3 linked regions of the Homo sapiens genome follow. The protein of the gene in region 3 purifies or fractionates together with the protein of the main gene of each other region. This does not show direct contact. Each region holds a gene or a part of one and is shown on either strand. Other genes may lie near its edges. The genes, in order: GLB1, LYZ and KHK.

The links.
Region 1: the proteins of KHK (region 3) and GLB1 purify together in Homo sapiens (affinity purification with mass spectrometry; 2 studies listed by BioGRID and IntAct, with this or other methods). This does not show direct contact.
Region 2: the proteins of KHK (region 3) and LYZ purify together in Homo sapiens (affinity purification with mass spectrometry; one large-scale study listed by BioGRID and IntAct). This does not show direct contact.

The regions. Positions count from the first base shown.
Region 1 is NC_000003.12:32,996,096-32,999,744, reverse strand, and holds the end of GLB1 (beta-galactosidase isoform a preproprotein), read left to right. Parts: intron 1-2,400; coding exon 2,401-2,700; 3' UTR 2,701-3,128; downstream 3,129-3,649.
Region 2 is NC_000012.12:69,347,036-69,351,278, forward strand, and holds the start of LYZ (lysozyme C precursor), read left to right. Parts: upstream 1-1,345; 5' UTR 1,346-1,373; coding exon 1,374-1,509; intron 1,510-3,072; coding exon 3,073-3,237; intron 3,238-4,243. UniProt on the Homo sapiens protein: Lysozymes have primarily a bacteriolytic function; those in tissues and body fluids are associated with the monocyte-macrophage system and enhance the activity of immunoagents.
Region 3 is NC_000002.12:27,089,701-27,093,349, forward strand, and holds part of KHK (ketohexokinase), read left to right. Parts: intron 1-2,631; coding exon 2,632-2,748; intron 2,749-3,649. UniProt on the Homo sapiens protein: Catalyzes the phosphorylation of the ketose sugar fructose to fructose-1-phosphate.

The sequences.
Region 1 (3,649 bases), on a different chromosome or scaffold from region 3:
TGGGAGGTGGAGGCGGAGGCTGCAGCGAGCCAGGATTGCACCACTGCACGATAACCTCCCCAGAGCAATGGCTGCTGCTTCTCTCCACCCTCCCAATCTCAAGCAAGGGCCTCTTCTGACCAACGCTAACCCAGAACCATCCAGGGAAGGGGATCCAGGGAAAACAATTCCCAGCTTACCTACCAGGTGCACAGTCCACCCGGCATGTGAGGGCCCATCTCTTGGATGCTTATGAAATGGAACTTGAGGTTTGAGAAAGGACCAAACCTCCACTTTGTTCACCTGCGATTTGGTCAAGAGTTGGCTTGGCCTGTGTCCTGACCATAGCATGAAGCCTGTGTGGTGCGTGCCATTCCTTGGCTGCTGCTCGTAATGCCCTCCCACTTCTCTGTCTTCCCCCTTGACCGCAAAAGTAAAGTGCTACTGTTCTCTAATACTGCAAAAACAAGGCACCGGCAGATTTTAAGCTGATAAAAACCTGCTAAAGCTGTCATTGTATATACCTTTTAGGATGGAATGAGATAACATATCCCAGGGTAAAAACAAGAGTGAAATAGTTCTGAGAACTGTGAAACTGTCGTCCTCTTTCTAAATGACTTAATCCAACAGACAGGTGGTTTTTAATCACGGACCCCCTTCTTTTGTAGGCATTGGAACACCAACATCTTTTCACTTTAATCATGTAAGGAGTGCTACCGCTTACAGGCCACACACTGTTCCTTCATCATCATTGTCCCCAATGACTGGTATGAAAAATTGAGTTGAGACCTGCCCAAGGTCAGACAGCTAGTAAGTGGCAGGACACAGATACGAACTCAGGTAGGAAATTCAGAAGGATCTAAAGTAAAGGGGACACTTGGAGGCTGAAAAATACCCAAACGTAAGAAGACTGAGGAGCCCTGGGGTGAGCAGCAGAGTTGTGTTGCAGAACGTGATGAGGATTAGGGCTCAGCAGGTGTCAGCCATGGCTGGGCCTCCTCCAGGCTGTCTCCTAGGATATCTGGGCCATTGTAGGTCACAGTTTCTTTCCTGCCTCCCTCCCTTCTTCCATTCCTCTTTCCTCTTCCTTCTCCCTTTATGTTTTCCTTTCTTCTCCCAGATTTTCTCTTTCTTTTGCGTGTATGTGATCTCCCCATCTTCACTTTCTTTCTTTGTAATAGAATGGTCCATCTATTCAGCCAGCTGTTGATCCTAGCCTTTGAGCTTTGAGCAAATCTTTTTTTTTTTTTTTTGAGACGGAGTCTTGCTCTGTCACTGCGCAAGGCTAGAGTGCAGTGGCGCAATCTCAGCTCACTGCAACCTCTGCCTCCCTGGGTTCAAGTGATTCTCTTGCCTCAGCCTCCTGAGTAACTGGGATTACAGGCATGTGCCACCACACCTGGCTAATTTTTGTATTTTTAGTAGAGACGGGGTTTCACCATGTTGGCCAGGCTGGTCTCGAACTCCTGACCTCAGGTGATCTGCCTGCCTTGGCCTCCCAAAGTTCTGGGATTACAGGCATGAGCCACTGCACTCAGCCCCTTTGAGCAAATTTTAGCACATACAGAGAGGCTGTGTAGACAGACCTAAACATGGTCCCTGTTTTTTAGGAGTTTATCCTCCACTTTCAGTTTTGTTATGGGAAGCAGCTTCCCCTACTCACAGAAATTGTTTATGCAACCTATAGCATCACCTCTGCTCCTGAACCAAACATGGAGTCCACACCCTAACTCTGAGGGTGCCTGTAAGAGTCCTTAGAACATAGCAGTAATATAGACACCCAACTGGATAAGCCTCTTCCTCTCCCTCACCCCAAACCCCCCTATCCCTCTTGAGGGGTTGTTTTGGGGACCACTCCTGGTACCTGTCTGACCTCAGGATGCAGGCCCTGGAGTCCTCTGTTCCCTGTGTTCACCAGGTGTACAGCAGATAGTGAGGTCAAGACCTGCCTCTGGGAAAGGAGAACAAAGAAGGAAAAGATCTATTTAAGGAAGCAGTTCAGCAGTTGTCTTCTGTGTACAGAAAAGTCAGGGAGAGGCTGGTCTGTGGGTACAGGCAGCACCTGGGAACCAGGATGAAATTCAGAAATTTCCACACTGTTCTCTGGTACCAACATCTGTGGCCACTGAAGCCCGTCAGAGGGACCAAACCTGTATTTTCCTGAAGCAGGAGTGGGTCTTTGGGGCAAGTTTTTGTTGCCCCAAAGAAGGTGGATGGGGGCATCCACCTTCTTCCCACCTTGGCCAGTTATCCCAGCAAGAAGCTAAAACCAAGGCTGGCATGGGCCTGGCTGTCAGCCTCGCCTTTCTGGGGGCATTTCTTTCCTCCATTGCTGCTGGCCTGCCCTACATCAGGGCCCCCACCTTCCTCAGGGCTTTCGGTGCATCTGGGGTTGATGGTTCTCTGTCTCTCTCTCTCCAGGGCCAGGTCTGGATTAATGGCTTTAACCTTGGCCGCTATTGGCCAGCCCGGGGCCCTCAGTTGACCTTGTTTGTGCCCCAGCACATCCTGATGACCTCGGCCCCAAACACCATCACCGTGCTGGAACTGGAGTGGGCACCCTGCAGCAGTGATGATCCAGAACTATGTGCTGTGACGTTCGTGGACAGGCCAGTTATTGGCTCATCTGTGACCTACGATCATCCCTCCAAACCTGTTGAAAAAAGACTCATGCCCCCACCCCCGCAAAAAAACAAAGATTCATGGCTGGACCATGTATGATGATGAAAGCCTGTGTCTTTGAGGGATTCTACCCTGAACATACCTCACAGATCCTCCCTGTCATGCCACATTTCACTGATTGGAATGTGGAAATGGAAAAGGAATTTAGGATGTGCATTTTCACCTGAGGTTTCCCTGCATCCCTGCAGTGCCAAAGCCCCACCTTCAGGGACCACCTGGAATGTGTGAGGGGCTGACAGCACAGTAACGTGCATACATATCTGCAGGGCTGGAATGGAAGCTTTAAAGGTGGTAGTGATTTTTATTTTGGAAGAATCATGTTACCTTTTTGTTAAATAAAATTTGTACTCAAATGATGATGTCACTGTTTTTAATGTGCAGGTATTGAATTATATGGTCTGACTTAAATCATAACTAGACTTGAGTGGGCTGAATAAACCACTTCACTAACTTGAAGTTCAAAAGGATGGAAAATAGTCTTGGTTTGATCTGTGGACTGCTGCTTTTCTGATCGTTATTTGACTTGCTTTTGGACTAGATAACCTATAAATACAGCTCAAAACAATTATGCAAACAATCTAAATGATTAACAGTTGCACAGTGTACATAGTATGGTATATCTATATAGAAGCATAGTATTTTAGCCACTAAAATGGTGAGAGATCTATACTTATATGCAAATTTTTTGATACATGAAAAAACAGATTACCTTAAATTGGATCCCGTTTTGTGTGTTTCAACATAAGAACTTCACATATTCACACAGTACAGGCCTATACACATGTCAGTAGTCAGGCATGCACGTGTGTGTGTGCTGTGTATGTGCACAGATAGGAAAGGATGTGGTGTTTCTGATATTCCTGTCCTGACATGGAGCAGTAGCTCTCATTTGTTGAGGACTTGTTCTACACCATGCACAGTTCTGAGTTTATGTTTAACTCACTTGCCCCTCACAAGAACACTGAGGAATATACTGTCATCCTGCCGG
Region 2 (4,243 bases), on a different chromosome or scaffold from region 3:
CCCAAAGTGCTGGGATTACAGGCATGAGCCACTGCACCTGGCCCTATTTATTATTGAAGAATCAAAATTAGGCCTAGCCTGAAAAATGAGATTATTCTTGATTTTTGAACAGGGTCCTTGAACTGTCATTTAAAACCAAATCTGGTAATCTTTAGAGGCCACTGATGAAAAATAAGGGTAACTACAAAGTGATGACACTTTGTGTGGCTCAGAATCTGTCCTCTTAGGCAGATACAGAAGTGCAGTTCTTTTTGAGTTCTGGTAGCATTGTTTTAAAAGCTGTGCACAGCCTCCTGAGATTGCTATTTTCAAAGGTAGCATTTAGTTGGATATATGTTTGGGTAGGTTTTATTTTTAAAATGCTGTTGCTTTCTAATGACCCCTTATGTTCTAATATGGAAAGGGGAGGCAAAGTATTGTGAAAAGTAGTTGGTAAAGTAGGCCGGATGTGGTGGCTCACACCTGTAATCCCAGCACTTTGGAAGGCCGAGGCGGGCGGATCACGAGGTCAAGAGATCCAGACCATCCTGGCCACATGGTGAAACCCTGTCTCTACTAAAAATACAAAAATTAGCTGGGCATGGTGGTACATGCCTGTAGTCCCAGCTACCTGGGAGGCTGAGGCAGGAGAATTGCTTGAACCCGGGAGGCAGAGGTTGCAATGAACTGAGATTGCGCCACTGCACTCCAGCCTGGTGACAGAGTAAGACTCCATCTCAAAAAAAAAAAAAAAAAGGTAGTTGGTAAAGTTGTTCACATGAACCTTATTTATAATAGTAAAACACTGATTTATAATAATAAAAAATTTGCTATAGTAACAAAAAGAGTCTAGAGTAAGAAACTAGCTGAGCAACGTGGTGTCACACTATACACCCATTAAGACAACAGGCACATGTGTCATGTCCATTTTGTGGAAAAGATATGTAAAATAATTTTAAGTAAAAAAGATAAATATAAAAAAGTGAATGCATACAAAACAATTTCACAAAATTGAATGTTACTCAAAAATCACAGCTCATTTTAAGCTGCACAAAATAGTCATTTTTTTCTTTATAATTGCTCAAATTCATAATCAAACAGAAGAAAGTTCCTGTCTTGGAAGTAGTGCTATGCCCCAATTCTTCCAGAGCCAGTACTTTAAACAATTCCATTTCATTATTTTCCTGTAGACTAATTCTTAGGACATCAGCATATCTCTCTTCAAGCATTAAAAAAATCTCTTTAGAGTCAGTGGATCAATAGACAGTTCCTGTTTTCCACACAACTGAAAGGGTGGAGCCCCCAAACCACAAGGGGAAGAAGGAAGTTAAAAGATGTTAAATACTGGGGCCAGCTCACCCTGGTCAGCCTAGCACTCTGACCTAGCAGTCAACATGAAGGCTCTCATTGTTCTGGGGCTTGTCCTCCTTTCTGTTACGGTCCAGGGCAAGGTCTTTGAAAGGTGTGAGTTGGCCAGAACTCTGAAAAGATTGGGAATGGATGGCTACAGGGGAATCAGCCTAGCAAACTGTAAGTCTACTCTCCATAATTCCAGAGAATTAGCTACGTATGGAACAGACACTAGGAGAGAAGGAAGAAGAAGAAGGGGCTTTGAGTGAATAGATGTTTTATTTCTTTGTGGGTTTGTATACTTACAATGGCTAAAAACATCAGTTTGGTTCTTTATAACCAGAGATACCCGATAAAGGAATACGGGCATGGCAGGGGAAAATTCCATTCTAAGTAAAACAGGACCTGTTGTACTGTTCTAGTGCTAGGAAGTTTGCTGGGTGCCTGAGATTCAATGGCACATGTAAGCTGACTGAAAGATACATTTGAGGACCTGGCAGAGCTCTCTCAAGTCCTTGGTATGTGACTCCAGTTATTTCCCATTTTGAACTTGGGCTCTGAGAGCCTAGAGTGATGCAGTATTTTTCTTGTCTTCAAGTCCCCTGCCGTGATGTGGGATTTTTATTTTTATTTTTATTTTATTTTATTTTATTTTTAAAGACAGTCTCACTGTGTGGCCCAGGCTGGAGTGCAGTGGCATGATCTCAGCTCACTGCAACCTCTGCCTTCTGGGCTCAAGTGATTCTCGTGCTTCAGCCTTCTGAGTAGCTGTGACTACAGGTGTGTACCACCACACCCAGCTAATTTTTTGTATTTTCAGTACAGATGGGGTTTCACCATGTTGGCCAAGCTGGTCTTGAACTCCTGGCCTCAAATGATCTGCCCACCTCAGCCTCCCAAAGTGGTAGGATTACAGGTGTGAACCACTGCACCCAGCCGACATGGGATTTTTAACAGTGATGTTTTTAAAGAATATATTGAATTCCCTACACAAGAGCAGTAGGAACCTAGTTCCCTTCAGTCACTCTTTGTATAGGATCCCAGAAACTCAGCATGAAATGTTTTATTATTTTTATCTACTCTACTTGATTAACTATCTTTCATTTTCTCCCACACAATTCAAGATGTGCCATGAGGAAAAGTTATTTTATAGTTTAGTACATAGTTGTCGATGTAATAATCTCTGTAGTTTTCAGATTGAATTCAGACATTTCCCCTCAATAGCTATTTTTGAATGAATGAGTGAAGGGATGAAATCACGGAATAGTCTTGTTTTCAAGATTCTAACTTGATATCCAAATTCACCTTTAGATATTATAAGAAAATTTCTATCAGAAAATCCTTATGTTTTTCTGATTAAAAAAAGCATTTTTCCATCAGCCTATGTATCTGCTATGAATTTACAAAATCTACTCAACAGCTCTGTTGATTTTTCTGTTCTTGGCTGAATGTTGCCTGAGGGATGGGAGCACGGGAAGGGTAAAAGCAATGGAACAAACATGTATTTTAATATTTTAAAAGTATGTTATATTGTTCGTTGGTGTTACAAGATGATTTGCATTACAAAAGGATTCTCTTACAAGTCCCTTATCTTAACACTAAAGTGCTAAGATATTTTATAAGTAAATCTTTATACTTATAAAACAAATCAGTAAAATAGAAGTAGCTAAGTAGAACTGATTTTGCTATAGAGTATAAGTCACTTAGTGTTGCTGTTTATTACTAAAAATAAGTTCTTTTCAGGGATGTGTTTGGCCAAATGGGAGAGTGGTTACAACACACGAGCTACAAACTACAATGCTGGAGACAGAAGCACTGATTATGGGATATTTCAGATCAATAGCCGCTACTGGTGTAATGATGGCAAAACCCCAGGAGCAGTTAATGCCTGTCATTTATCCTGCAGTGGTAAGACAAGCTAATATTTGACCAATCTGGTTATACTTACAAGAATTGAGACTCAATACAAATGAAAAAGCCTTGAAAGGTTCATGAGGGACCTAGAAAAACTACATCTCAACTTCCAGAAAGTCATTATTATTTTCCTCATAATTCCCTGAGTAAGAAATTAAAGAAGTGGTATCATAAAAGGTTGATGTTTTTTAATATACAGAAGTTTCTGGAATGACCTATTAATTTACTGTCAATGGCCTTACTGATGCTTTGTCCAGAACAATGCCATTGCTCCTGCTTACTTTGGGGAGGTTTTGGGATAATTTAGTTGTATGGTCCTTTTTCAATTGTTTTACTTTTTTTTTTATGAAATGTTCTAAATGTATAGAAAATTAGAGACATTAGTATAATAAACAGCCATATGCCCATTATGCACTTTAAAAGTTGTTAACATTTTGCCATAGTTGCTTCTTCTATGCCTTTTTTTTTTTTTTTTTTTTTTTTTTTTTTTTGCTGAGAGTTTTTTGTTTGGTTTTGTTTTGTTTTATTTTGAGACAGGGTCTCCCTGTCCCCAGGCTGTAGTGCAGTGGCACCATCACAGCTCACTGCAGCCTCAAGTGATCATCCCACCACAGCCTCCCAAGTAGCTGGGACTACAGGTGTGCACCACCATGCCTGGCAAATTTTTGAAATTTTTAGTACAGGCAAATTCTGTGTTGCCCAGGCTGGTCTTGAACTCCTGAGTTCAAGCAATCTTCCCACCTCAGCCTCCTTAAGTGCTGGAATTACAGGCGTTAGCCACTGTACCTGGCTACTGCTGAGAGACTTTTAAGTGAATTAGGAACATGATGATATTCCATTTCTAAATTCTTTAGTTTACATCTTCAAAAAATACAGTTCCTGTAGAATTATTATTGTAAATAACAAATTAACTTAAGGATTTATTTATTTGGAGTGAAACAAATATTTTACTGAACTCATAAAAATAGAAATACCATGTGGAATCCTCAGTGTCAAAAAT
Region 3 (3,649 bases):
CTGTTGTGCCTCCCAGAGGAGCACATCCGAGTGGGGACCCAGTCCTTCCTGGGTGTCTCAGCCCCACCTGTCCTAGGGTCTCTGTGCTTGACAGGCAGTTGGGGACTCTTGGGAGCCGCCACCTGGAGCTCAGCCAGACCCCTGGGACGTGTCCTTTTTTTTATTTTTTGAGTTGGAGTTTTGCTCTTGTTGCCCAGGCTGGAGTGCAATGGTGCGATCTTGGCTCACTGCAACCTCCGCCTCCAGAGTTCAAGCAATTCTCCTGCCTCAGCATCCCGAGTAGCTGGGATTACAGGCATGTGCCACCACACCCAACTAATTTTGTACTTTCAGTAGAGATGGGGTTTCTCCATGTTGGTCAGGATGGTCTCGAACTCCCGACGTCAGGCGATCCGCCTGCCTCAGCCTCCCAAAGTGCTGGGATTACAGGCGTGAGCCACCGCGCCCAGCCTTTAGCTGAGCATTTCTGCACAGGAAATATCAGTGTGACTTTGAAGGGTTTCCCCAGAGTAAAATTCTATATCCTTTCTTAGAAACCTCAATGCTTGGGCCTAACAACTTTTAGTTTTAAAATACGGAGTAATTAGCAATGGCTTTGGGGTCAGGAAATTGGGTTCCCACATCAGCTTTGTCCTTAACTATTGATCAAGTCAGATCCCTCGAGATTCCTCCTTTTTTTTCATATCTTTTCGTAAAAATTTCTGTAAAGCTGTAAAGCTCAGCTTGAAAATCTTTTTTTTCTTTTTTCTTTCTTTTTTTTTTTTTTTTTTTGGAGACAAAGTCTTACTCTGTCACCCAGGCTGGAGTGCAGTGGCATGATCTTGGCTCACTGCAACCTCTGCCTCCCGGGTTCAAAAGATTCTCCTGCCTCAGCCTCCCGAGTAGCAGGGATTACAGGCACCTGCCACCACACCCGGCTCATTTTTGTATTTTTAGTAGAGACAGGGTTTCAACATCTTGGCCAGGCTGGTCTTGAACTCCTGACCTCGTGATCCACCCGCCTCAGCCTCCCAAAGTGCTGAGATTATGGGCGTGAGCCACTGCGCCCGGCCAGCTTGAAAATCTTTGACCAGCTGGGTGCAGTGGCTCATACCTATAATCCCAGCACTTTGGGAGGCCAAGGCAGGAGGATCGCTTGAGCCGAGGAGTTCGGGACCAGCCTGGGCAACATAAGAAGATGCCATCTCTACGAAAAAATTTTTTAAATTAGCGGGGCATGGTGATGCACACCTATAATCCCAGCTACTTGGGAGACTAAGGTGGGAGGATCAGTTGAGCTGGGGAAGTTGAGGCTGCAGTGAACCATGATCATGCCATTGCACTCCAGCCTGGGTGACAGAGTGACTCTGTCTCAAAAAAACAAAAAAATTACTATCCTTTGTCATTGTTGTTATTGTTGTTTTTGAGACAGGATCTCACTCTGCCACCCAGGCTGGAGTGCAGTATCATGGCTCACCCCAGCCTAAACCTCCCGGGCTCATACGCTCCCCCAACTTCAGCCTCCTGAGTAGCTGGGACCACGGGTATGCACCACCATACCCAGCTAATTTTTAATTTTTTTTTTTTTTTTAGAGACAAGAGCTCCCTTTGGTTGCCCAGGCTGGTCTCGAACTTCTGGGCTCAAGTGATCCTCCTGCTTTGGCCTCCCAAAGTGCTGGGATTATAGGCATAAGCCACTGTGCCTGTCCTACTATCATTTTTTTTCTAATGACATCGTGCTCCCCTTTTCCCAAAACTGAAGTTTCGCGTACAAATATGCTTTGGCCTAAAAATTCTGGTTCGGTTTTTTCTCTTAATTCGTGGTTCTTTGGTACTGTTCCTTTTATTGTAAACTGCCACAATTATTATTATTATTGGAACTGGCACAATAGAAATAACACCACCATTCTTACCTCAAAGGTAATAACATTCATTAATGATTTCTCATTTGGGCTCCAGTAACACTGTGAGGGGATCAGTGCGTTGACCCTCTATGTGGAAGTTATCATTTTTGCTGCTGATGACAATGAAGCCCTTCACGTGTGTCTTGTTAGTTTCCTTTTGGTTGGTTTTTAGTAAAGATGGAGAAGTGCTCCCTGCTGCCACTTCTTAAACGACCAACGTCCAGGTTTGCTGTCCTGTCTTACTCGTTTGATTTTATAGCTCTGCAGTTTCTATTGAAGTAGACACTCCTAACACAGGGGTAGGTGTAAATGTGATACCTTTGGGAAGAGGCACTTAGTCCCCGAGGTCCTTGGAGTTGCTCCAGCTCTCAAGGAGGAGGCCAAAGGTGCAGCGTCTGGAGCAGCTCTGACTGGGGTGAAAGGTGAGGAGGAGATGACCTGGAGTTAGTGGGTCTCTCGAATAGTGATGGACCCAAGTGAGTGGTTTCCTGTTGCCCTAGGAACAGATGGAAATATTGAAAGGAACTGCTGTCAGCTTGAATTTAGCCTGGGCTGGGGAGGTAGACACCGCTCTCAGCCAAGCTCCTTCCCTTGGCCGGCCTCGGCTGCCCCGGGTACAAAGTGAGACGTCGGCCTAGATGCTTTCTGAGAGGAGTCCCCAGCTGTTACATTCTGTAGGCCCCTATACAGGAGACTGTGCTTGGGATCAGCCTGCTGGGGCTGCAGGGACCCTCCCTGTGCTTTGCAGGTGTTTGTCCCAGAGATGGCAGCGCGGAGGCAACGCGTCCAACTCCTGCACCGTTCTCTCCCTGCTCGGAGCCCCCTGTGCCTTCATGGGCTCAATGGCTCCTGGCCATGTTGCTGAGTAAGTCCAGGAGGGAGAGCCCACTGGGGAAGGCCTGCCTGCATCATTGTGGGAGAAGAAGGATGTATCCACCCTGGGTGGATGGGGGATTAGAAATGGGTTGTGTCCAGCAGAAACGCGGGGAGGGGGCATGGCGGAGCACCAGACGCCCAGCCCTGCCTTGGCGTGGCCTCTCTGCGGTTCGGGGGCTGATGCTGCCCCTGTGAAGCTTTCCTTGCCACAGCTTGTTTCCTGGACACTTCTGGAGCCTGCTTCAGCCTCTTCCTTTCTCCTTCCTTGCTTCCTGCAGACTCTGCGGTGGATGTGCCTTTGCCTTATCTTAAGTCCCTTATCCTGGCCATGCTTGAGGCAGAAGGCAGTTAGGGACACGTGGTACCCATCCTCCCCCAGGTCCAGGCCCACAGTTTCTGTCCCAGTTGAGAGGCAGGGCTGGTGCTCATGTCCCTGTTGTTCACTGAAGCAGTGAGAGTACCCTGTTCAAGGACACCCTGAAGCCACATGCTAAAGCTGGGCTCAGAACCCACACCTCCCAGTTCCCCGGCTGTCAGGGCTATAGCCCTAAATGGCTCATGCACGCCCTCCATGTTGGCTGCTGCAGGGACCTCAGAGCCCTTTGACCCCTGGCGCTGCCGACTCAGCAAGCACTTATCGGGAGGTGAGGCCCACACTTTGCACACTGTGGGCACGGGGGCAGGCTGCCAGGTTGCTGGCCTGTGAAGGGCAGCCCTTTGAACCCTGGTTTGAAGGGGGCTGCTGGCAGAGTCCAACCACCTGAGCTACAGCCAAACTCCCTGCCTTGATGAACTGGCAGGAAGAGAATAGAGGGAGAGAATCTGCCCTGTGAGATGGGACAGGACGGCTCAGAACCAAGGGCTGGTGACTCATTAAACCTCTTTAATAG